7 linked regions of the Homo sapiens genome follow. The protein of the gene in region 1 purifies or fractionates together with the protein of each later gene. This does not show direct contact. Each region holds a gene or a part of one and is shown in the gene's direction. Other genes may lie near its edges.

Region 1 (3,500 bases):
TGCTAATACTGAATTCCCTGCCCACAAAATGTATTGGCCCTAATGTGAATTTCCTGCCTATGATATCAGTTACGTAAGTCAACCTCATGTGCATTAAGAAGGATAATATAGTACTCTCTGGCCAATGTTCCTTTCTAGAATTTCTTGGTTTCATAGATTCTTCATAAGGACAATTTACCTATGTTGATTCATTAATTAGTTTCCCTGGAGTTAAGGGGAGCAATGAGAATATTGGAGATATTGGTTCTTTAGTCATTAAAATGTTGTTTTTCTATTTATTTATTTGTTTGTTTGTTTATTTATGAGACGAAGTTTCACTCTCTTGCCCAGGCTGGAATGCAATGGTGTGGTCTCGGCTCCCTGCAACCTCCACCTTCCGGGTTCAAGCAATTCTCCTGCCTCAGCCTCCCAAGTAGCTGGGATTACAGGCACGTGCCACCACGCCCAGCTGATTTCTGTATTTTTAGTAGGGGTGGGGTTTCACCATGTTGACCAGGCTGGTCTCGAACTCCTGACCTCAGGTGATCCACCCGCCTCGGCCCCCCAAAGTGCTGGGATTACAGGTGTGAGCCACTGTGCCTGGCCAAAATGTTGTTTTCCAATGTTTTCATGACATACAATAAAATGTTTTGGTTGAGATATTTGTCCTTGTAATTTATGCACTAAATATGTATGCCTGAGAAACTTGGCTATATGACAGCTAGGATAGTAATGCCATGGTTAACTGTGAATACACAAAGTTCTTGGTATTTTCAATAAGCTGGTAAAATATATACCAAAATTCACTTTGAGAATATTTCTGGTAACAACATGCTAGTATACTCTGTATTTCAAAGTAGGTGACATGTGCCCGAGGCCTTTTTCTTTTCAGTGGAATGAGCTTTTACACATTCCTGATCAAGTCAAACTTTCTAATAATGCAAAATTCCACCTATAATCTTTACAAATGGCCAGCCAAATACTTTTTTGAAAATTTCCAAGGATTGGAAGCTAACTGCACTGTGACACAGCCTCTCCATGACTGGATAGCTGAACTGAAACGTGCTTTCCCATAATTCATTCTTGTTCTTGTAACAGAATAGCTAATTCCTCTTTCACACGCCTGTTCCAGATTTTTAAAAACTAATATGCATTTTCTTCCATCTTCTTTTTTCAAAATGATAGTTCTCAACTTCTCCTGTAAATAATTTTTAGGACCCCTTCTAAGTCTGTTCAACTTTCTCTGAACAAATTTGTCAATTACTTTCATAAAATACAGTCTCCGGCCGAGCACCAGATTCATGCCTGTAATCCCAACAGTTTGGGAGGCTGAGGCAGGAGGATCACTTGAGCCCAGGAGTTCAAAACCAGCCTGGGCAAGATGCCAAAACCCTATCTCTACCAAAAAAAAAAAAAAAAATTAGCCAGGTGTGGTGGCATACGCTTGTGGTCCCAGCTACTTCAGAGGCTGGGTGGGGAGGATCACTTGAGCCCAGGAGGCGGAGGTTGCAGTGAGCCATGGTTGTACCACTGCACTCCAGCCTGGGTGACAGAGCCAAACCCTGTTTCAAAAATAATAATAATACAGTCTCCATGTATGAACAAAATACTCAGAGTGTGGTCTGACTCGTGCAGAGTTCAGTGAGTCTTTAATCCTAACCTCCCTTGGTCTGATCAACTATCCTTCTATCAAATAATTACTCTGGATAAAAATTCAGTTCAATGCTAACACTTAACTTTAGGTTTGAAATACTTTTGAAAAGGGCATTTATGCAACATGTTTAAATCAACCTGAGGAACCTTAAACAGCTATTTTTTGTGACCTTAACTAATTTCTCTCTGGAATTCAAAAATGTCCAAATGCAAGACCAAGAAGTTGGACTTGGGCTGTTGGTGGTGTGATCCGAAACACTCCAGGTACTCTGAGGTATCTTTTTCATTTCCAGCCCTAGATCCTTGTTCTGCTTACATCAGCCTGAATGAGCCCTGGAGGAACACTGACCACCAGTTGGATGAGTCTCAAGGTCCTCCTCTATGTGACAACCATGTGAATGGGGAGTGGTACCACTTCACGGGCATGGCGGGAGATGCCATGCCTACCTTCTGCATACCAGAAAACCACTGTGGAACCCACGCACCTGTCTGGCTCAATGGCAGCCACCCCCTAGAAGGCGACGGCATTGTGCAACGCCAGGCTTGTGCCAGCTTCAATGGGAACTGCTGTCTCTGGAACACCACGGTGGAAGTCAAGGCTTGCCCTGGAGGCTACTATGTGTATCGTCTGACCAAGCCCAGCGTCTGCTTCCACGTCTACTGTGGTCGTGAGTACCTTCCCTGTGCTCTTTTTCTCCACCAACAAGGCCACAGGTGGAGTCCAAAAGTGCCAATTATAGGATATGCAGTTACAGTGGCAACTATATCTCAATCTGAACAACATTGATGTGGGGCTAAAGATACCTCTGATTTCTGAGATCTCTTCTTAGAACTTCTGAAAAATTCCTGAAGAAATAGAAGGGGAAAGGAGCTATGACTTTGATCAGTTCTTTTTAATTTTGTCTGAATTCCATTCAAACAAAACATTAGAAAATGAAACATTGGGCCAGGCGCAGTGGCTCACGCCTGTAATCCCAGCACTTTGGGAGGCTGAGGCAGGTGGATCACAAGATCAGGAGTTTAAGACCAGCCTGGCCAATATGGTGAAACCCTGTCTCTACTAGAAATACAAAAATTAGACAGGCGTGGTGGCAGGCAACTGTAACCCCAGCTACCCGGGAGGCTGAGGCAGGAGAATTGCTTGAACCCGGGAGGTGGACGTTGCGGTGAGGCGAAAATCGTGCCATTGCACTCCAGCCTGGGTGACAGAGTGAGACTCTGATTCAAAAAAAAAAAAAAAAGAAAAAAAGAAAATGAAACACTGATTTAGATTATCTAAATGGTGGATTTCCAACTTTTGAGTATGGAGAACCCCTTTTTAAGATAGATAGATGATAGATAGATAGATAGATAGATAGATAGATAGATAGATAGATAGATAGATAGATGATAGATAGATAATCAGACATCCATGTGATTGGATTGTGTTTAGTGTCCACTGATTTTTTTAAGTGATATACAATGGGAAGAAGCTACTTTATGTCAGTAATACTTTTAATTTCTGTGTTATTAATCCTGTCAATGTCTGTATTCATTTTTTAAATAGAACACTAGAAGAGTAGGACATAACACTTTCTTAGTCTATAGCTCTTGTATGGTGAGGTTTTGGATTTGCAGAAACTCTATGGCCACTCAAGGGCCTGTGGATCTGAAGTTGGGAATCATTGATCTAGATGACAGAAGATGCCCTAGATTGTTGTTTTCCATTGGTTTATATAAACCCTGAACAATGAGGATTCCCTTGATGGTGGCTGGAAACTCATCCCCCAGGCTGCACTTATGAGGCTCTCTCAAGAAGAGGGTCAGCTGGATGCAGTGGCTTATGCCTGTAGTGCCAGCTACTTGGGAGGCCAAGGTGAGAGGATTGC
Region 2 (3,500 bases), on another chromosome or scaffold:
AGCCCGAGAAGGCTGCTGTGGAAAACTCTCAAACTCGGAAGACGTTGCATCTTCCATTAGGATGAGGGGAAAGGCGCACACACAGCCCCATGCCATATTGTGAGGTGGGCGAAGGTGTGGATTGAAAACATTCATGAAACTAGCACTGACTTAGGCAGGGTGCAGAGTTTGTGACAGTGGGGGACCCTGCTCCGTCTCCTGTTAGTATCTGCGCATCAGACAGATGCGCATTCTGTAATATACGACCCACAGTACAGAGAAGCGGCAATTCCGATTAGGGGACTGACGAACAATTTATCATGAGGATAATCATTAACTGATACCTGTTTTCTGCATGAGACCCTAATCATTAACTGATACCTGTTTTCTGCATGGGACCCTTTGTGGGACAGAAAAACTTCTAGATCTTCTAGAATCCACCACTCACCCCTTTGTCCTTTAACACGGGCTGAAAGTGGTGATTTGGCTGTGTTCTTACTTATTTTTATTTTTTTTTTGAGACAGTCTCACTCTGTCACCCAGGCTAGAGTGCAGTGGCTTGATCTCAGCTCACTGCAACCTCTGCCTCTGGGTTTAAGTGATTTTCCTGCCTCAGCCTCCCAAGTAGCTGGGATTACAGGCATGCACCACCACACCTGGCTAATTTTTGTATTTTTAGTAGCGGTGCGGTTTCACCATGTTGGCCAGGCTGCTCATGAACTCCTGACCTCAAGTGATCCTCCCGCCTTGGCCTCCCAAAGTGCTGAGATTACAGGTGTGAGCCACCTCACCCAGCCTTTTTTTTTTTTTTTTTTTTTGAGGTAGGGCGTCTCTCTGTCACCCACGCTGGAGTGCAGTGGTGACATCGTGGCTCACTACAGCCTCAACCTCCTGGGCTCAAATGATCCTCCCACCTCAGCCTCCTGAGTAGCTGGGACTCCAGGTGTGCCCCACCATGCCTGGCTAATTTTTGTATTTTTTGTAGAGACAGGGTTTCACCATATTGCTCAGGCTGGTCCCAAGCTTCTGGGCTCAAACAGTCCTCCCACCTCAGTCTCCCAAAGTGCTGGGAGTATAGGCCTGAGCCACCAAGCCCAGCTGCTGATAGCATTTTATTATAAAATTGAACACATGTAGAACTTTTGTAAGACAATTACAGAGTCAGTGGAAACGTCCTCAAGTGAACAGTGTGTAACGACAGCCAGGCCATGTCTTCGAAGAAGCCTTGGCATCCAATTTGAAATGATGTGTAATGGTAGGCTTCTCCCTCCAGATCAGGCCAGTATTCTACATTCTTTTTTTTTTTTTTTTTTTCTTTTTTGTGATGGAGACTCACTCTGTTGCTAGACTGGAGTGCAATGGCGCCATCTCGGCTCACTGCAACCTCTGCCTCCTGGGTTCAAGTGATTCTCCTGCCTCAGCCTCCTGAGTAGCTGAGACTACAGGCGTGTGCCACCACGCCCAGCTAATTTTTGTATTTTTAGTAGAGATGGGGTTTCACCATGTTGGCCAGGATGGTCTTGATCTCTTAACCTTGTGATCCGCCCACCTTAGCCTCCCAAAATGCTAGGATTATAGGCGTGAGCCACCACGCCCGGCCTATCCTAAATTCTTTTAGCCTTTTTTTTTTTGGTAGAGACAGGGTTTCACTGTGTTGTCCAGGGTGATCTCGAACTCCTGAACTCAAGTGATCTGCCTGTCTTGGCCTCCCAAAGTGTTGGAACTACAGGCGTGAACCACCACACCTGGCCAATATCCTAAATTATAAGGAAATAATCTCCTTGCTTTTCTTCATAGTTGTATTTTTAAAATTTAATTTAATTTAATTTTTTTTTTTAAGAGACAGGGTCTTTGCTCTGTCACCCAGGCTCGTCTTGAACTCCTGGCCTCAAGCGATCTTCTCACCTTGGCCTCCCAAAGTGCTGATATTATAGCTGAATAAGAAATAATAAAATTTGAGCAAGTCATGTCAATTTCCATGTTACCTGAATGATTGATTTATTTTATTTTTTTGAGATTGGGTCTCACTCTGTGGCCCAGACAGGAGTGCAGTGGCACAGTCATAGTTCACTGCAGCCTTGAACCCCCGAGCTCAAGCGATTGTCCCTCCTCACCCTCCTAAGTAGCCGGGACTACAGGTGTGTACCACCATGGCTGGTTAATTTATTGTATTTTATTTTTTTTGTAGAGACGGGATCTCACTATGCAGCCCAGGCTGGTCGCCAACTCCTGGCCCTAAGCAATCCTCGCACCTGAGCCTCTCAAAGTACTGGGATTGCAGGCATGAGCCACCAGCCTTAGCTTAATGATGTTTTCAGATTTTTCAGTGTTTCCCCACCCTCATACCTGCCGTTTCTCAGTAATTCTTTGTAAGTCTCTGGCAGAGGCCGTCATTGCGCTTTGCTCCCTGTTGGGAAGGTACTCACGGCATTGAGTGTACTGCACTTTTTCATACTGTTGGTCACCTCTCACAAGGACATAAGCTCTGTGTGGCTCAGTTCCCCAGGCTGTCAGCCTCACCCCTCTTCCTGCGCACATGGGGGAGGCGGTGCCTTTGCTGAAGTGGGATGTGTGGAATGTTTTAGGACTGCGTGATCTTTGAGGAAGTGGCTGTGAACTTCACCCCAGAAGAGTGGGCATTGCTGGATCATGCTCAGAGGAGCCTCTACAGAGATGTGATGCTGGAGACCTGCAGGAACCTTGCCTCCTTGGGTAAGGGTGGTGTCATTCCCTCACTGCCTCCTTGGGTAAGGGTGGCGTCATTCCCTCACTGCCTCCTTGGGTAAGGGTGGCGTCATTCCCTCACTGCCTCCTTGGGTAAGGGTGGCGTCATTCCCTCACTGCCTCCTTGGGTAAGGGTGGCGTCATTCCCTCACTGCCTCCTTGGGTAAGGGTGGCGTCATTCCCTCACTGCCTCCTTGGGTAAGGATGGCGTCATTCCCTCACTGCCTCCTTGGGTAAGGGTGGCATCATTCCCTCACTGCGTCCTGGAGAGCAAAGAGACCTTGGTTTTCTTTTTTTTTTTTTTTATTTTTTTGAGACGGAGTCTTGCTCTCTCGCCCAAGCTGGAGTGCAGTGGCACGATCTCGGCTCACTGCAAGCTCCGCCTCCCGGGTTCATGCCATTCTCCTGCCTCAGCCTCCTGAATAGCTGGGACTACAGGTGCCCACCACCACGCCTGGCTAATTTTTTGTAGCTTTAGTAGAGATGGGGTTTCACCGTGTTAGCCAGGATGGTCTCGATCTCCTGACCTCGTGATCCGCCCGCCTTGGCCTCCCAAAGTGCTGGGATTACAGGCGTGAGCCACCGCGCCCGGCCTAAGATACCTTGTTTTTCTTTTTATTTGAGCTCAAAAATTGAAATATGTTGGAAAAGAGATAGACATGATCCCAACACCCATGGAACATGGGAGTCAAAATGCTTCTCCATGAAAACAAAGTTTTGTGTATGATTGATATTTAGGTTTTCTTGATCACCAGTCCTTGGCTGCCCACATTTTATAAGTCTGAGTAGAGTATTCT
Region 3 (3,500 bases), on another chromosome or scaffold:
TAGCTGGGCGTGGTGTCAGGCACCTGTAGTCCCAGCTCTTCAGGAGGCTGAGGCAGGAGAATGGCGTGAACCCAGGAGGCAGAGCTTGCAGTGAGCCAAGATCGCACCACTTGCACTCCAGCCTGGGCGACAGAGCGAGACTCTGTCTCAAAAATAAATAAATAAATAAAATAAAAAGTTTAAGGAAAACAAAAACTATAAAAGCATTAGAGGAAAGCATCAAATGCTCATAAACCCTTTGGAGTAGGAATGGTCTAAGTATGACACCAAAGAAAGAGAGACCCTAAGGCAAAAGATTCATAGATTCGATTACATAAAAATGTAAAACTTTTATCTATCAAAAACATACACTGAAAGCAAAAAGATAGATGAGTGTCCGGAGAAAGGGAAAAAGTAGATGAAACACTGTTTTTATATGTTGAGATGTATAATGTATTTAGGAAAATAGGTACAAACAAGGTCACCTGAATTGTATTTTATATTGGCAAATATATCCTTGACATAATGTTTCATAATGTGTTATTTTTTTCACTTTTGATACAGGGAAATTTAAAATTTGTAGTAGATGGTGACACGCCTCTTATTGAGAATGGCAAAGTAGTATCTATCATAGCAGAATTGCTCTCTACTAAGACAGATATGGTTGAGAAAGCCCTTCTTTACCGGACTGTGGCCACAGGCCGTGACATCATTGACAAGCAGCACACAGAACAAGAGGCCAGCTACGGCAGAGACGCCTTTGCCAAGGTGAGAGTGTAACTGACCCTATGTCACCTGGTGTTGATCGCAGTTGCAAATTGAGTGAAATCCTGTGAGCATGTATTCAGACATTCTTGAAAGAGGGTTAAGGCTTTTAGAAACCATAATGATACTTTCTGGCCATACAAGCCTCGGTAAAACTCCCAGATGTAAGTAAGCATCACTGCCAAAAAAGGTTCTGAGAAGAGTGGAAGCTGACTGGGGGTGGCGCTCATGAGGGCTTCACGTGCTGCTTCTCTCACTCAATAATGCTTCGCCAGAGTCAACTGACTGAGCTCTGATCCATTTTTTTTAAGTTTTATTTATTTTTAATTGACAATAATTGTATATGTTTATGGGTACAGTGGGATATTTCAGGACATGTACACATTATGGAATGATCAGATCAGACTAATTAGCATACCTCTTACCTCACCTACTTACCATTTATTTGTGGTGAGAACATTTAAAATCCACTCTTAGCAATTTGAAACAATATTATTAGTATTATTATTAACAGTCACCACGCTTTGCAGTGGATCACCACAAATTATTCTTCCTGTCTAACTGAAACTTTACCCTTTGACTAACGTCTCACACTTTCTCCATCCACCCCGCTCCTCTAGCCTCTGGTAATCACCATTCTATTCTCTGCTTCTATGAGTTTGACTTTTTCAGATTGCATATAGGTGAGATCACACAATATTTGTCTTTTTGTGCCTGGCTTATTTCACTTAGCATAATGTCCTCCAGGGCTGTGTACTAAGCCTGCAGTGATAGTACCACAATTTATTTAACCACCTTACTCTTAAGTCACCCACTTTACTTCCCTTTTTTGCAACTGCAAACAATGCTGCACGTCTTTATACATCTATGCTTATATACTAGTGCTTTTGTTTCAGCTGGATGGATTCCCAGGAGTGAGCTTGCCAGGTCAAAGGGTATACTTATTTTATTTTTATTTTTTGAGACGGAGTCTTGCTCTGCCATCCAGGCTGGAGTGCAGTGGCACAATCTTGGCTCACTGCAACCTCCACCTCCCGGGTTCAAGTGATTCTCCTGTCTCAGCCTCCCAAGTAGCTGGGATTACAGGAGTGTGCCACCACGCCCAGCTAATTTTTGTATTTTTAGTAGAGACAAGGTTTCACCATGTTGACCAGGCTGGTCTCGGACTCCTGACCTCAAGCGATCTACCTGCCTTGGCCTCCCAAAGTGCTGGGATTACAGGCGTGAGCCACCGCACCTGCCATATATTTATTTTAAACTTTAAATTTACTGATTTTATGGCTGCATGGTAATATTTTATTGTTACTTTTATTTCATTACTAGTATATTTGAGCATCTTATCATATTTTTGTAGAGTATTTTAACATATTCTAAGAATTGCCTGGGTATATCTTTTGTGCATTTTTCTTTGGAGCTGTTATCTTTTTATTGTCAATTTCTAAGTGTTCTTAGCATATCATAAACTTTAACCCTTTGTTATCTGTGTGGCAAGCGTTGTATTTTCTCACGTCTAACTTTCGTTGTTGTTGTTTTGCTGGTTGATTAGTTTACTGTCTATTTCATTTTTTACTCTTGTAAGTCTTAGGCTTGGTTTTTAGTTTTGGGGGAATTTGAATTTTTCCTAAGTGCAATGGAGAGCAATAGGGAGGACTTTAAGGAGGGGCAATGACATCAAGTTTGCCTTTTTTTTTTTTTGAGATGGAGTCTCGCTTTGTTGCCCAAGCTGGAGTGCAGTGGCACAATCTCAGCTCACTGCAAGCTCTGCCTTCCGGGTTCATGCCATTCTCCTGCCTCAGCCTCCCAAGTAGCTGGAACTACAGGCGACCGCCACCACGCCCAGCTAATTTTTTATATTTTTAGTAGAGACAGGGTTTCACCATGTTAGCCAGGATGGTCTCCATCTCCTGACCTTGTGATCCACCCTCCTCGGCCTCCCAAAGTGCTGGGATTAGGTGTGAGCCACCGCACCCGGCCGTTTTTTTGTCTTTTTTTTTTTTTCTTTTTTTTTTGAGACGGTGTCTCTCTGTCACCCAGGCTGGAGTGCAATGGTATGATCTCAGCTCACTGCAACCTCCACCTCCCGGGTTCAAGCAATTCTCCTGCCTCAGCCTCCTGAGTAGCTAGGATTACAGGCACCCGCCACCATGCCTGGCTAATTTTTGTATTTTTAGTAGAGATGGGGTCTCATCATGTTGGCCAGGCTGGTCTCAAACTCCTGACCTCAGGTGATCTGCCCACCTCAGCTTCCCAGAGTGTTGGGATTACAGGCATGAGCCACTGCACCTGGCAAGTTTGCATTTTTAAAATGATCACTCTGGCCTTAGTATGGAGAATGTTATGGGGGCTAGAGTAAGAATGGAAGCAAAGAGGTCAATTAAGGGGATATTTTGTTAATCCAGGAAAGAGATGAGGGCAGCTTGAATCAGAAAAGTGAAAGTACAAATGGGGAGAGGAGGATGATTTGAAATGGACTGTGTTGAGAAAATAAAATCCATAGGACCTATTATGTGGAGAATGAGAGAAGCAAGAATAATACTTTAACATGGTCTGGCTCCAGCCCACCTCTCCCACCTCATTTTATACTATACCCAGCCCCCCTTTCTTCAGCCCAGCACATTAGTCTTCTCTCAGTCCTCACAGATTATCCTGATCCCTTTCTCCTTCCAGTCACAGGGCCTGTGCACATCTGTTCCCTCTGCTTGGACTGCTCTTCTCTCCTCTCTTGCTTGGCTACCTCTTACTCATCCTTCTGGTCT
Region 4 (3,500 bases), on another chromosome or scaffold:
TCTTATTGGAAGGAAGACAAGAATTCACCCTTGAATTTCCCAATTGTCTTCCTGCTGCCCGTCTGCATAGGAGAGACGGATGGATGTCTTGGGTGCTTTCAGGATCCATGAAGAGGAGTCGGCAGTGGTGTGCCCGGTGATTGATGTGATCGACTGGAACACCTTCGAATACCTGGGGAACTCCGGGGAGCCCCAGATCGGCGGTTTCGACTGGAGGCTGGTGTTCACGTGGCACACAGTTCCTGAGAGGGAGAGGATACGGATGCAATCCCCCGTCGATGTCATCAGGTCAGGAGCTGACTTCTGGGTGACTTGTTTTTTAAGCATGCCTCATTGAATCTGGCTGACCTGTGAGCGGAGGCCCTCGGGAGGAATGGTTAGCTGTCAGCTTAACTACCTCCCCTCTTCCCACTTTTTTGCCCAGAGTATTTGTTTATTTTTATTAAACGTGTCTGCTACACATGTCAATTTTATATCGGTATATTTTATTTATTTAATTTTTAAATTGTGGTAAAATATACATCATAGAGAATTTACCATTTTAACCATTTTGAAGTATGCAATTTTAGGCTGAGCATGGTGGCTCATGCCTATAATCCCAGTACTTTGGGAAGCCAAGGTGGGAGGATTGCTTGAGTCCAGGAGTTTGAGACCAGCCTGGGCAACATAGCAAGAACCTATCTCTACAAAAAAATAAAAATTAGCTGAGCATGCTAGTGTGTATCTGTAGGCCTAGCTAGCTGGAAGGCTGAGATAGGAGGATCGCTTGAGTCAAGGAGTTCAAGGCTTTAGTGAGCTATGATCACGCAATTGTACTGCAGCCGGGCGATAGAGTGACACCCTGTCTCTATAAAAAAATAAATAAATAAAACAAAGCATGCAATTTTAGTGGCATCGAGCACATTCACGGTATTGTGCAAACATGATCTTTACCTATTTCCAGGAATTTTTCATCATCCCACACAGAAAATATCCCCACTAAGCAATAACTTCCCATTCTCCCCTTCCCAGCCCCTGGGAACCTCTGTTCTTTCAGGCGCCCCATGTGAGTGGAATCATACAATATTTGTCCTTTTGTACTTGGCTTCTTTGACTTATCATCATGTTTTCAAGTTTCCTAGAGAACATCATTCCTTGTGATGGCTGAGTAATATTCCTTTGTACATATATGCTACATTTTGTTTATCCATTCTTCTGTTGGTGGACACTTGGGTTGTCCTTTGGTTATTGTTAAATAATGCTGCTATGAACATCGGTGTACTTTTATCTGCTTGAGTCCCTGTTTTCCATTCTTTTGGGTATACACCTAGGAGTGGGATTGCTGGTCATATGCTCATTCTTGAGGAAACATCTTTAGGCCCCTTTGACCTGGGGTGTGGGTGGATCCATGGCAGGTGGAGGAGTCTGCTCTGGCCAGTGGGTGAGTCAAGCTCTGAGTAGAATGGGCCCAAGGGAGGCTCAGCAGCTCTCATTCTGGAGGTTTTGAAGTGATAGCCTGGCTTCTTCCTCCCCTTCCAAGTTCAGAAGCAAGTGGGAGACAGATGTGGGAGTTGGGCAGGAGGAGGTCAGGACTTCAGCCTCACCGCTGGTGTGTTGAACCGGAAGTAGGCTCTGAGTTTTGCGTCCACATTTGGCAGTTGGGCTTCTGAATTCTTTCACCAGAGTCCTGACCTTAAGATGACCCGCTGCTGGCAGGAGTGGAGCAAGCAAGGAGAGTGTCCAGAGATAAGGCTGGAGAGATGGGCGGGGCCAAGGGAAGGGGTTTGGACTTGACCCTGAGCAGGTAGAAGCCACTGAAGGGATCGGAGCAGGAAGTGACCTGAGCATGTGCTGCGTGCCATGTGGTGAGGGCCCTGGGGGGACCGTTGTAGGCAGGGATACCATTAGGAGGCTCTGCAGTCTTCCAGGTCAGAAACAATGGTTCAGGAGATGGTGGGCACTGTGGATTCCAGAGATGTTAAGATGGAAGAATTGGAAGAAATTGAGTGGGAATTGGGGAAGGAAGGAATTAAGAATGGCACCCAGGCTTCTGTAGGAGCCCTTAGTGAGAACATCCTGCTCAATCCCTCACTGAATAGGTTTGGAAACTGAGACACAGAGCAGGAGGCTCTAATCTAGGCTACTTAGGCAGCCTGTCATGAATTCATGGGGGTCCATGAATTCTAATTGCCCCGTTACCCCACATGCTCAGGGCACCTATCCTCCCCATCCCATAATATCCCTGTGCCTCAGTTATCTCATCTGTATAATAGGTACCAGCATATCCACCCTGCTTATTTCCTAGATTTTTAGGATAAACACACGTGAAGGTGCTTTGTAGTCTAGAACCTTCCCTTCCACTGGGGATGTTGCTGTTGTCTTCTCAGTTGGCCCCATGCTTGGAGTCCAGGGCAGGCCCCGATGCTGCAGGATGTTAACATTTTCAGTGGTTGCGCTCTCAATGTTCTCTTTCCCTATTTTTTTTTTCAAGTTGGGGTCTCGCTTTGTCACCCAGGCTGGAGTGCAGTGGCATGATCTCAGCTCTCTGCAACCTCTGCCTCCTGGATTCAAGTGATTCTCCTGCCTCAGCCTCCTGAGTAGCTGGGATTATAGCTGTGGGCCACCACACCCAGCTAATTTTTGCATTTTTTTAGTAGAGACAGGTTTTCGCCATATTAACCAGGCTGGTCTTGAACTCCTGACCTCAGGAGATCTGCCCGCCTCAGCCTCCCAAAGTGCTGGGATTACAGGTATGAGCCACCGTGCCCAGCCCTTTCCCTATTTCTGAATTCATCCTTTTGCCTGTGCAACTCTGGGACGTGCTGACCTTACAGTGTTCTGCCGTGTAGGCTGGAAGCCGTGGGCCGTTTCTGGTTAGTGCTGGCTTCCAGATAAACCTGGTGGTGGGTGGCGGGAAACAAGGCTGGCTGAAAAAGCAGCCTGAGGCTGGCTAGCTGGGTCCTAGTGGAGGAAACCACTCAAGAGGACCTGGCCCTCGGGGCACTTTCAGATGCCAGAGTTGCCTTTAGGGCCTTCTGCATACTGGCCTCTGAGTGGCATCTGTGAGTGCCTGCCTTGTGAGATCACACCTCCTCAGATGACCATGGCCTGGAGCCTGCCTTCTTCTCGGAACGTGGTCTCTTGCTTCTCTCTTCTCCTTGCTCTCTATGCTTCTAAATGTCCCTGGATTTCTCCCACCCTTAAGCCTTTGCTCATGCTGGAGAACCATTCCATTTCCCTTCTTCTTCTTGGCTAACTGTCCTTTGTCCTGCAGACCTTGCTTCCTCCAGGGAACCTAGTCCTGCCCTTTTGCCCCTGCCCTCCTCAGTGTTCTCCCAGGGCCCTGGCTGACCTTAGTTAACATATTTAGCACACACATAGTACTTACCTGCTGAGAAGCCTGGGAGCCACCTCAAGGCAGGGACCGTAGGGTACATCTATGCCTCCAGGCCCAGCCTAGTGTGGGGCACAGAGGTGAAGGCGGGATATGCTTAGAGATGACAGATGAACAGATGAAAGGG
Region 5 (3,500 bases), on another chromosome or scaffold:
TTCCTCATGCTTCATTTTCCCCTGTTTTCTAAGGTTAAAACTGAGAGCTGTTTCTCCAATGCAAAGCTGCTTGTTTAAGGGTTTCGTATTTGATGTTGGAAATGCTCTGGACTCTTCCATGGTTTTTATATTCCAGTGATTTCACTGCAAACCTGGTGTGTACGCCTTGTAAATTTTGACCCTGGCCAAGTGAAAGGTTCATTTTAAAAGTTTTAAAATAAATTTTAAAGGGGAGCTGGAAGTGGAATAAGTTAAGAACAGTATCAGTTTTGCCTTTCACTCTGACAGAGGCACTCTCTGCTCTGACTGACGGGTGTTGATTAAAAGTATAATATTCAAAAGAAATAGTAAAGTGCATTGGGCCTTGTTAATGTTCTACTAATTTTCTGGGGCTCCGTTTTCAAATTATAGGTGAAATTTTTTTCCTTCCAGTGTTAGTGCCTATGATAAGAAAATACATTTTCTCCACATCTGTCCACAAACCTGCTAGACCCTGTTTTGTGACTACCTCCCCTTGGAACTTGGGGCTCCATGGAAAACACACAGCTTGACCCAGCCAGCCCTCAGAGAGCCTGGGCCGGTCACTGCAGTGGCTGGATTCTCAGCATAAAAAGGCCAAACGTTCGGCCAGGCTGGGACTGGCTCCCATCCAGGACCAACTGTCCACAGTACAGTAAGGCCACTCTCTGAGTCAACATTGTTTCTTTTCTGAATTGCTAAGTTGACCGTCCCTGCAGAAGCAGAGAGGGCTGCGGTGTGGCATTCCTGCCCACTCCAAATGAGGGCAGCCCGGACGCGGGAGCTCTCAGGGAGGCGCAGTGGGCTTTGGGTGTGTCTGGACTGTCTCCACCACACCTGGAAGATACTGTTCACTTCCTTTTTACACTTGTGGGAAATACATGACAGTGTTTACGGGCAGGCTGGCTTTCCGTTTATTTCAACCCTGACAATTGAATAGCAGCAGCAGATGATGAAACTGTTCACTTCCCGATCACTCCCGTTCTCAGATCCATCACTTAGCTCGTCCGTCGCTCAGCTCGTCTGTTAGTCTGAAAGATGAATCGTGCACGGGTCCTCCTGAGAGTGCTGTTCTCGGGGTCTCCATGTGTGAAGTTGTTACATCCTCATGACAACTGTGTAACAGCTGTCACTGAGCCATTTTACAGATGTGGAAACTGAGGCCCTGAGAGGCTGTGGAGGGCTACAGTGTGTCCTGGGCATTTGAGCCCCACACTCTGTCATTAACTCCTGTGCTCGCTGGGACTGGGGGAGAGCAGGACGCGGCAGCACCCCCGGCCCCACTGTGTGCTCCTCTGTGTGCAGGCGACTGTGAGCATACTGGCACCCATGTGAGGGCTGAGTGGTGCTGGTGTGGGCGCATAAAGCACAGGGCGGCTGCGGGGAGCTGGGTGTGTGTCAGTGGCTCGGAGCATTAGTCTCGTGAACATGGTCTGCCAGGTGCGTCATGCTGGGCTACAGAGCCCATGGCTCCACCATAAATGGTGGTTTTGTGTTTGAACTTGAGTGTTGCTGCTCAGTGAGGCCAGAGGAAGGCACCAACCTGCAGGCCTGGCCGGTCCTCACAACACGGAAGGCAACCAGTCCACTAGAGAGACATGTGTCCCGGCCACTGGAGGAGTCCAAGTGACCTTTAAGTCTCACCAGTCCTCAGAGCAACCCAGGTGAATTTGGGGCCTGAGCTTGGTCGTCTGGCCGAAGACCAGCTCAACTTGGATAAAGCTGGAGGAGAAGCCTGTCCCTCAGGCAGCTGCCAGGGCATCTGTGATTTCTGCTTGCGTGCACTCTTGGCGACTATTGGTGGTGGTCGCAGTCAGGGCATCTGGTTGCCTTTACTGTCCTTACACCAGCTGGGCAGAGCTCAGGCTGGGAGCCCAGTGGGAGAGGCCGGGGCGTGACTCCCGGCGCAGAAGCGGCAGTGGCACACCGGCGTCCCAAGCACAGCTGTCCCTGCCAGGCCCCTGCGCGTTGGATCTTTGGGTTGAGTCATGCTCGATGGTGCAGCCATCCTTTCAAGGGAACTGAGCTGTCCAGCGTCCCATGGAGCAGCTCCCCGTGGATCCGGAGAGGCCGTAAATAAACCTCCCCATTTGTAAGCCGGGAACACACATGAACTTTGCAATCGTGTTTGTCCTGGGATCATAGAACGTGGTGGCTGGCAAGACCCAGGCATCCTCATCCTGTGCTGCTGTGAACAGAGGCCGGTAGCTTATTGAGGGACCAGTCCCAGTTCGCTTTCTGTGGGGAAGACTCTGATGGAAGCCTAGGCCCCAAACTCCAAGGTTAGCACATCTTCTTGGGGGGATTGACACCTCCAAAGGTGAACTTGGGTCCAAGGCACGTGTGTGCGACCTGAAGCATGGGTGCCGTGTGCAGGAGACGCCCTCACCGGAGATGGGGACCGAGTCCACACGGCTCTAACTGCAGAATCACTGGCCCTGTGCCCACGACTATTTTATTTTGCTGTTTTATATGATCACAAAGTACACTGTCTTGTTTTTCCCAAAGCATTTGCAGTGAGACATCCCACTTCCTCTCCACGGCAGCTGTTGCGGGCACGAGGCTGCTCCCAGGACAGCGATGCCACCGGGGCTGGGGTGGGCACGGAGGAACCCTCTTCCTTCCTCCTCCCCGCCCTCTGCTCCCCCACAGACTGGCCTGTCTTTAGTCAGCACTTTCCCAGGCTCCCTTCTGCCCACCACGTGCAAACAGTGGCGTGTCCTGGGCCTCTCTCCTTGTAGTGTTTCTTGTGGCCAGCATCCCTCCCATCCAACAGCTGTGTGGCTTCCTGACTGGCTTCTCTCAGGGCCCGCAAGGATGCTGCCAAATGGCCAGAGACAGTCACTGCTCTGCACTTCAAAGCAGGCAGCCCTCGGTGGGGCTTGCCCTGAAAGACAGCGGGCCTTCCTCGATGAGAGCCTGTGCTGGCTCAGGGCCTGTGGGGGCTGCAGCTCTGTTCCTTCCCTGCGTCCACGCTCACATGCTGAATGTTGTGCACCACAGGACACCCTGCTGGGGGCTGTCGGGAGCATGCTCTGTGTTTGGGGCAGAGACGGGCAGAGTGAGTCTCAGCATTACTGCCGTGCAGGGTTGAGTCTCAGCATGACTTCCATGCAGGGGGAGTCTCGGCGTCACTGCCATGCGGGGCGAGTCTCGGCGTTACCGCCGTGCAGCTGCTGGAAGCCACTCGAGCTCCTCTGTCTCGTTTGCCATGAAGCCCATGAGAGACACTGATGTGTGTCTCGGGGCTTCTGTGAGAAGAGCTTGGTTACCCACCGGGTCAGGCACCACGTCGGTGCTGTGAGGCATGGAGGGTGCTCACAGCTGTGCAGTCAGCTACAGAGGCCTTTCCCAGCATCCACATCTGACCGGGCAGTCACACCAGGATGAGCTCCCAGGAAGAGGGCTCCCAGCAAGGGAGGGCGCACCTGGGTGTGAGCTTGGAGGAGGGCAGAGGCACCTGTCACCGCTGACCCTGGGTG
Region 6 (3,500 bases), on another chromosome or scaffold:
CTGACTTCCTGTTTTTTTCTCAATCAACTTTACCATCAGTATCCTCAGTTCTCTTTGGAAACAGGCAGGATACAGATTAATAGCCAGCCCAGGCATGTAGTAGGCTTATAAGAGTTCACTTCTGTTCCTTATTTCTTGTGCCAAGCCCAGACATGACTCCAGCTCAGCCCGTCTGACATCAGGGGGCTTGTGGGCCGGAATTGGTTACTACCGTGTCCCCTGCAGTGATCCTGGGTGGTTTTGGACTCTTCTCAGGCTACCTGATGGTTTAATTTTCAAAATATCAAAAGCACACAATGCTTTTCCTAGTCTGCCCAGCCCTTGGATGGGCACAGCTTGCCCTGGGTCGAGGGCTGGCATTTCCCACCATTCCTTAGACATTCTCTGCTCTTGAACTCCTCCAACCAGTGGCTGGGGCAGTGCCTTTGGCCTGGAATGTCCTGCTGGCCACCTCGGTGAGCCCATCCAGTGCTTTGTGGCCTTGGCAAGGCAGCTTCTGTCCCTTCAGTATCCTCGTCTGCAAAATGGGGATGATTGTATTAACAGCCACGTAGCAGGTGGCTGCAAGGATTAGCGGTGATGTGATCAGTGGTTTCCTGGATGCTGGTACCGAATGCGTGCTCTGTGAGTATTTGAGTTGGAGAATAATTAAAACCTGTGATTATCATCACACTTCTAAAGTAGTGAAAGCGCCATTGAGGCAGTGCTTGGCAGTGGCACCCCTGGGAGCAGCCTGCCTCCTGTGCCCTGCATCTGGCCCGGCACACAGTAGGCGTTGAACGGTTGCTGTTGAGATGGTCCAGAACACAGCATGGCTTGGATCCTGGCTCCAACTCTTGGCAGCTCTGTGGCCCCGGGCAGGTTACTCACCCTCTCTGGGCTCCCTTATGTTCTCATATGGAAAATAAAGATGACAGTAGTAGTCACCTCATAGGATTGTCCTGCGTGTTAAATGGTCTCATACATGGAAAGCACTTTGGAGTGCCCAGCACCTGAAATGCTCAGTAAGTGCTGCTGTGGTTATGATGATCCCCCTCTCCCACCAATGGGCTTCCTGGAGTGATCATCTTCGATCAGGAATATCAAGACAGCAGGGCCCAGCAGTGAAGGATGGTGGCAGGAGGGGAGGTATGGAACTCAGATGTCCTCGGTCTCTTCTGTTTATTCCAATTAAGTACCCCAGATGCCAAACCTCTTCTGTTATTATTGTTGGTTTGTTTGTTTGTTTGTTTTGGAGACAGAGTCTCACTCTGTTGTCCAGGCTGGAGTACAGTGTCATGATCTCAGCTCACTACAGCCTCAACCTCCTGGGCTCAGTCATCCTCCCACCTCAGCCTCCCAAGTAGCTGGAACTACAGGCGCACATCACCATACCCAGCTAATTTTTGTATTTTTTTTTTTTCGTAGAGACGGGGTTTCACCATGTTGGCCAGGATGATCTCAACCTCCTGGGCTGAAGTGATCCTCCTGCCTCAGCCTCCCAAAGTGCTGGGATTATAGGCGTGAGCCACTGCGTCCGACCTTCTGTTAGGGTTTTGACCCTGCTCACCTCAGGGGATGGAAAAGACTTCTCCCTTTCTTGCAGCCTCCTTAATCCCCAAACCTTCCCTTTCCTGGCAGAGGTCATGGCATGGAGTGAAGAGTCCCTGGGCTGAGCTGCTGTGCCAGTGGACAGCTGAGTGACCTTGGGCAAGTCACTGCCCACCTTGGGGCGGCGGCTTTCCTCAGGTGGAAATGAGGTTCTAGCTGTATGGTGAGGAGGATGAACGTGTCCCATCAGCCCCACCTGACCATGGGCCTCTGAGATGTTCCAGGTGCTTCAGCCATACTGTAAGTCTCCTGAGTAAGGAACAGCTGGGGTCAAATCCTGCTCTGTCACTCATGAGCTGTGACCCTGAGCCAGGAGTGAGTAACTCTGAACCTCATCCGTAAACAGATCATTCTACGGTCGAGTGTCCCTCATCTGAAATGCTTCAGAACAGAGTGTTTCGTTTTTTGGGTTTTTGTTTTTTTGAGACGGAGTCTCGCTCTACCTCCCAGGCTGGAGTATAGTGGCCAGATCTTGGCTCACTGCAACCTTCACCTCCTGGGCTCAAGCCATCCTCCTACCTCAGCCTCCTAAGTAGCTGAGACTACAGGCACACGCCACCACGTCCAGCTAATTTTTGTACTTTTAGTAGAGATGGGGTTTTGCCATGTTGGCCAGGCTGGTCTAGAACTCCTGACCTCAAGTGATCCGCCCTCTTCCGCCTCCCAAAGCGCTGGGATTATAGGCATGAGCCACTGCGCCTGGCCGGAAGTGTTTTGTATATTGGACTTGCTTGGATTTTGGAGAATTTGCCGAACAAGTTGAGCATCCCTACTCCCAAGTTCCAAAGTCCAAAATGCTCCAATGAGCATTTCCTTTGAGCGTCACGTTGACACTCAAAAAGTTTCAGATTTTGGAACATTTCGGATTTTGGATTTTTGGATCAGGGATGCTCAACTTGTCATGCGTTCCTCATACGCTTATGTGGTGGATTCAGTGAGATGATCCTGTCTCACTTAGGTTAATGCTTGGCATGTGGTGGCAAGTGCTTGACAAATGTTGCCTGATGTTTGCTGGGCAGTGGCTGAAGCAGCTCATCCCTGGCATTGGGTCTTTCTTTCTTTTTTTTTTTTTTGAGACATCGTCTCACTCTGTTGCCCAGGCTGGAGTGCAGTGGCACGATTTTGGCTCACTCCAACCTCTTCTTCCCGGGTACAAGCAATTCCTCTTCCTCAGCCTCCCAAGTAGATGGGATTACAGGCATGTGCCACCATGTCCAGCTAATTTTTGTATTTTTAGTAGAGACGGGGTTTCACCATGTTGGCCAGGCTGGTCTCAAACTCCTGACCTCAAGTGATCCACCCTCCTCAGCCTCCCAAAGTGTTGGGATTACAGGTGTGAGCCACTTTGCCTGGCTGGGCCTTTCTTTCCCTCCAGGCCCCGCCCTGGGCCCTGCACTTTCTCTGCTCACCTAGTGTTGCCTTTATGTCGGTGATAGGGAGGATTAGCCTTATCAGGCTCCAGATAATGGCTGGAAAAGTCAGGAGGCTGCATGAAGCAAAGATAATTTCCTTTCTATTTCTCCTCTCCTTGTCCTTGGCCACCCCTCACCTTAGCCACTGGGGAACCCAAGGGGCCAGTGTCCAGCCCCAGGTGATAGCAGAAGAGCACTGGCCTTGGAGTCCAGTCCTGGGGGCCTGGTGTCAGCTCTGACACTCATGCATTGATTGTATTTCTCAGGTGCTTACTGTGGCCAGTCAGTGTGTTAGGCTTGGGGTGCCTGGTGGTGAATGGGATGGGTACGGGCTGGCTGTGTGGAGCCTGTGGCCTGGCGGGCACACAGATGGTCAGTCAGAGCTCTATAATAGGGTTTTCACTAGTGCTTCCAGAAAAGTCTAGAGCTATGAGAGGAATCCGATAGGAGCCCCATTCCGGCTATGTGAGGTTGGACCAGTGGAGGACATCTCAAGCA
Region 7 (3,500 bases), on another chromosome or scaffold:
TTTTGGTAACTCAAGGGGATTTCAAAGTTGAGGGAAGGATATTCAAGTATAGGAGGTTGGGTGGGATATGCAAATATGGGAGGCTAAATGGAGAGACAGAGTGAAGAAGTGAGAGAGGGGATAATTGATAGGAAAAGGTCAAAGGGATCTCAGGGACAGGAAGAGGTCAAAGGGATCTCAGGGATAGAGTTAAGGTGACAGGTGGAGAGGTTAGCCATTGAAAAAAGGAGCAGTTAATATAGAAGGGGTGGAGGTGAGTACTTGTAAATATAAAGACTGGGAGTTTATTGAGGATAGGCATCATATCCTATTCGTTTTGATAATCCCAATGTCTAGCACATTTTTTGGCATGAATTCTGTAAACATCAAGTGCCTGCTCTGTGCCAGGCAGTATTGCAGATGCTGAAGATGTAGCGGTGAGCAAGATAGACAAAGTCTCTGCCGTCTTGGAAAATCCACTCCAATGGGAGAAATAGACAACTCATAATTTCACTTAGTAATAAGTAACTGTGAAGGCAATAAAACCTATTTCATGTGATAGGGCAATTTGTAGTGGGGCTATTTTAGGTAACATGGTCAGGAAATGTCTCTTTGAGAGTTGGCATTTAAATTGAATTGCCATGATGAGGAGGCAGATGTAGAGGAAGAATGTTCTGGGAATTTATAAAGGCCTTGAAATGGGAACAGGCTTGTGTTCAAGAAACAAAAACATGATGAGTGAGTTATCAGTCAATGTCAAATGAATTAATTACTCTTTGCTTTAGGTGTACAGTTGAGAAGTTGAGAGTTTCAAACCTAATGGACTCAGTGACTTTGATGACAGTCTAACAAAGTGGTTAAGAGCTTGGGCACAGAAGCTAGACTGGTTTTGCATCCTGGTTTTGTCATTTGCTAGCTGTGTAACTTTGAGTATATTACATAACTTCTATGCCTCAGTTTTTTAAATATGTAGAATGGGGATCATAATACTAACATGAATTGTTTTGTAGATTAAATGAATCAATGTATGTGCTTGGCATGTTGACTGCTATGAAATATTAGTTACTGTTTTTTGTCTGTTTGTTTTTGCTGAGAATGAGGGGTGTGGGGACTTGAAGAGAAGGCAAGGATCATGTCTTACTCTTTTATTTTTGGTCTCAGTGACTGTGTAGAATGTGGGAATAACTCTTTCATTTATCCAGTGACTGAATAGATATATTTTTGGATGAATGAGGCCAATCAAAATCGGAACATTCTGTTGGGGAAAGGGGTTGGACAGGAAATGTATGAAGGAATGTATGATCTGTTCTGAATGTGAATGGTGGTATAACCATGCACTTGGGAGGCACCATAGCACAGTGGCTAAATGTTAGAGCACTGGAGGTAGACTCCCTTAGTTCACGTCTACCTTTTTCTACTTGTGTTAAATTGGGCAAGTTAATTAGACTTTGTCTGTTTCTTTACTTGTAACTTTGTAGTGTTATCAAAAGGACATTATGTCCGCACCTGGTAAGTGCCCATGAAATGTTACCTGTTGTTATTATTAAAATCACATTTAAAATTCCAACCAGCATGGCACTGTATGTTTTTCCACACAAAATAGAAATGGAGAAAACCTAGTTGAGTTGATTTAGGGTTAAAGAAAAAAGAAATGGAAGGTTTTGGGGACAGTGTTTGACTATATGGTAAAAAGGAAAGTGATGCCAAGAGGGAACTGATAGACTGGAAGATAAAGAGGAGTCAGAGTATCTGGGTCCTGAAGTCCTAGAAGAACAATGTTAGTGAAAACAATAGAGGGGATTGTGACCAAAATGGGGAATCTAAACTTAACCCCCTTAGTTTTTTCAGCTGCTTTATCTCTTTCTTGTTAGAAATGGTATTTGAGTCCATCCTTCAGATGCATGGGATTTTGGTTGTAAGAGGTTAAGTAGTCATTTTAGCAAAAGTTCAGGGATTATTTTATTTTACTTATTTTGAGGCAGGCTGGAGTGCAATGGTGTGAACATAGCTCACTGCAGCCTCAACCTCTTGGGCTCAAGTGATCTTCCTGCCTCAGTCTCCTCCAGTAGCTGGGACTACAGGCATGCACCACCATGCCTGGCTTGTTTTTTATTTTTTGTAGACACAGGGTCTCACCATGTTGTCCAGGCTGGTCTTGAACTCCTGAGCTTAAGTGATCCTCCCACCTCCACCTCCCAAAGTGCTGGGATTATGGGTGTGAGCCACCATGCTCAGCTTGCTCAGGGATTATTACTTGGCACTAACCATTGGCCCTATAAAAATTTATAAGACACAAATTCTAGACTTGAGTTTACTGTCTATCTGGAAGTGCAAGATACAAAGGCAGATACTTATAGAAGTGTTAAATGAAATGACCAAGAAAGTATAACCTACTATGACAAAGGCATGGCATTCTAGGCTGGCTTAAAAGCATCAGCAGAGACAGGAAAGCACAGTTTGTATGTAGGTAACAGTAGGAATTCTGTTAGAGCTAGAATGCAGGTGTCATGAAGGACAGTAGTGGAATTCATTCTGGAAATGGAGGCTTTGGCTAGGATGGGGCATCTTGAAGACCAAGGTAAGAATTAGATTTTATTCAGTAGACACTGATCACCCTTGATGGTTTTAAGCTATGAAGAGACGTTATTTATTGTAGGAATATGTCAGGAAGTAATGCGGGATTGAATCTGTATGTGTACATCTGTATTTGTGCATAGGTAGTAATTTTCTTCATGTAGCTGTTATATCAGTGGAATCCTGTATAGTGTATAAACACAAGTTAAGGCAAAAACTGCTCTATTGGTATACTGGTAGGTAGAAATGTGAAATGAATTAGTTTCCTAACTCAAGAGAAGAAAAAAATCTTGCCTCTGGGCTTAAAAGGAAAATAAAAATGTCAATCTAAAAATACTTTTGTCCTTTAATATATTTGTTTAAAAAATCAACAGAATAGTCTCACTTTTTTCTCAAAAACCAGATTAAACATTTAGGTTTTCTGAGGAGGGGTTAGGTTAATTGAGGTTTAATTTATATACAATAAAATTCATCCTCTTTAAATGTTCATTTGAAGAGTCCTGAAACTATCACCACAGTCAAGTATAGACTGTTTCCATCACTTCATATAAAAAGTTCTGTCAGGCCCTCCTACCCCTGGTTACTGACCGCTGCAAATCAGTTTTCTGTCACTAATATTTTACCTTTTCTAGAATGTCATATAAATCTAGCTCCTTAAGGGCAGGGCCCCCAGGTATTGTTCATCTTTCTGTCTTGTATCTGTATTTCCTGTAAGTGGAAGCTAGACCTTAAGGGTTTATTAGGTGTTCATTAGAAAATTTTTTAGCAAGAATATTGTATATGGCGCTGGGTACTGCATGTTGCATCCCATCCAGAGGTTGTGAGGTTGTCTCACTATTTAATATGTTAAATCTGATTACTTGGGTAAGACGGTACCTACTAGATTTCATCTCTGTAAATGTATGCTTTTTCCATTTGTAAAGAACAAGTAATCACAGGGTAAAAAT

What was found.
Region 2: the proteins of OIT3 (region 1) and ZNF77 purify together in Homo sapiens (affinity purification with mass spectrometry; one large-scale study listed by BioGRID and IntAct). This does not show direct contact.
Region 3: the proteins of OIT3 (region 1) and MYO1D purify together in Homo sapiens (affinity purification with mass spectrometry; one large-scale study listed by BioGRID and IntAct). This does not show direct contact.
Region 4: the proteins of OIT3 (region 1) and GALNT12 purify together in Homo sapiens (affinity purification with mass spectrometry; one large-scale study listed by BioGRID and IntAct). This does not show direct contact.
Region 5: the proteins of OIT3 (region 1) and GAS6 purify together in Homo sapiens (affinity purification with mass spectrometry; one large-scale study listed by BioGRID and IntAct). This does not show direct contact.
Region 6: the proteins of OIT3 (region 1) and ALDH4A1 purify together in Homo sapiens (affinity purification with mass spectrometry; one large-scale study listed by BioGRID and IntAct). This does not show direct contact.
Region 7: the proteins of OIT3 (region 1) and MYCBP2 purify together in Homo sapiens (affinity purification with mass spectrometry; one large-scale study listed by BioGRID and IntAct). This does not show direct contact.

Annotation. Positions count from the first base shown.
Region 1 is NC_000010.11:72,896,739-72,900,238, forward strand, and holds part of OIT3 (oncoprotein-induced transcript 3 protein precursor), read left to right. Parts: intron 1-1,925; coding exon 1,926-2,300; intron 2,301-3,500.
Region 2 is NC_000019.10:2,938,472-2,941,971, reverse strand, and holds part of ZNF77 (zinc finger protein 77), read left to right. Parts: intron 1-2,564; coding exon 2,565-2,691; intron 2,692-3,500. UniProt on the Homo sapiens protein: May be involved in transcriptional regulation.
Region 3 is NC_000017.11:32,762,125-32,765,624, reverse strand, and holds part of MYO1D (unconventional myosin-Id), read left to right. Parts: intron 1-543; coding exon 544-747; intron 748-3,500. UniProt on the Homo sapiens protein: Unconventional myosin that functions as actin-based motor protein with ATPase activity. Plays a role in endosomal protein trafficking, and especially in the transfer of cargo proteins from early to recycling endosomes.
Region 4 is NC_000009.12:98,831,670-98,835,169, forward strand, and holds part of GALNT12 (polypeptide N-acetylgalactosaminyltransferase 12), read left to right. Parts: intron 1-70; exon of another isoform or gene 71-79; coding exon of another isoform or gene 80-102; coding exon 103-288; intron 289-3,500. UniProt on the Homo sapiens protein: Catalyzes the initial reaction in O-linked oligosaccharide biosynthesis, the transfer of an N-acetyl-D-galactosamine residue to a serine or threonine residue on the protein receptor.
Region 5 is NC_000013.11:113,854,077-113,857,576, reverse strand, and holds part of GAS6 (growth arrest-specific protein 6 precursor), read left to right. Parts: intron 1-3,500. UniProt on the Homo sapiens protein: Ligand for tyrosine-protein kinase receptors AXL, TYRO3 and MER whose signaling is implicated in cell growth and survival, cell adhesion and cell migration.
Region 6 is NC_000001.11:18,896,056-18,899,555, reverse strand, and holds part of ALDH4A1 (delta-1-pyrroline-5-carboxylate dehydrogenase, mitochondrial isoform a precursor), read left to right. Parts: intron 1-2,407; exon of another isoform or gene 2,408-2,485; intron 2,486-3,500. UniProt on the Homo sapiens protein: Irreversible conversion of delta-1-pyrroline-5-carboxylate (P5C), derived either from proline or ornithine, to glutamate. This is a necessary step in the pathway interconnecting the urea and tricarboxylic acid cycles.
Region 7 is NC_000013.11:77,320,595-77,324,094, reverse strand, and holds part of MYCBP2 (E3 ubiquitin-protein ligase MYCBP2), read left to right. Parts: intron 1-3,500. UniProt on the Homo sapiens protein: Atypical E3 ubiquitin-protein ligase which specifically mediates ubiquitination of threonine and serine residues on target proteins, instead of ubiquitinating lysine residues.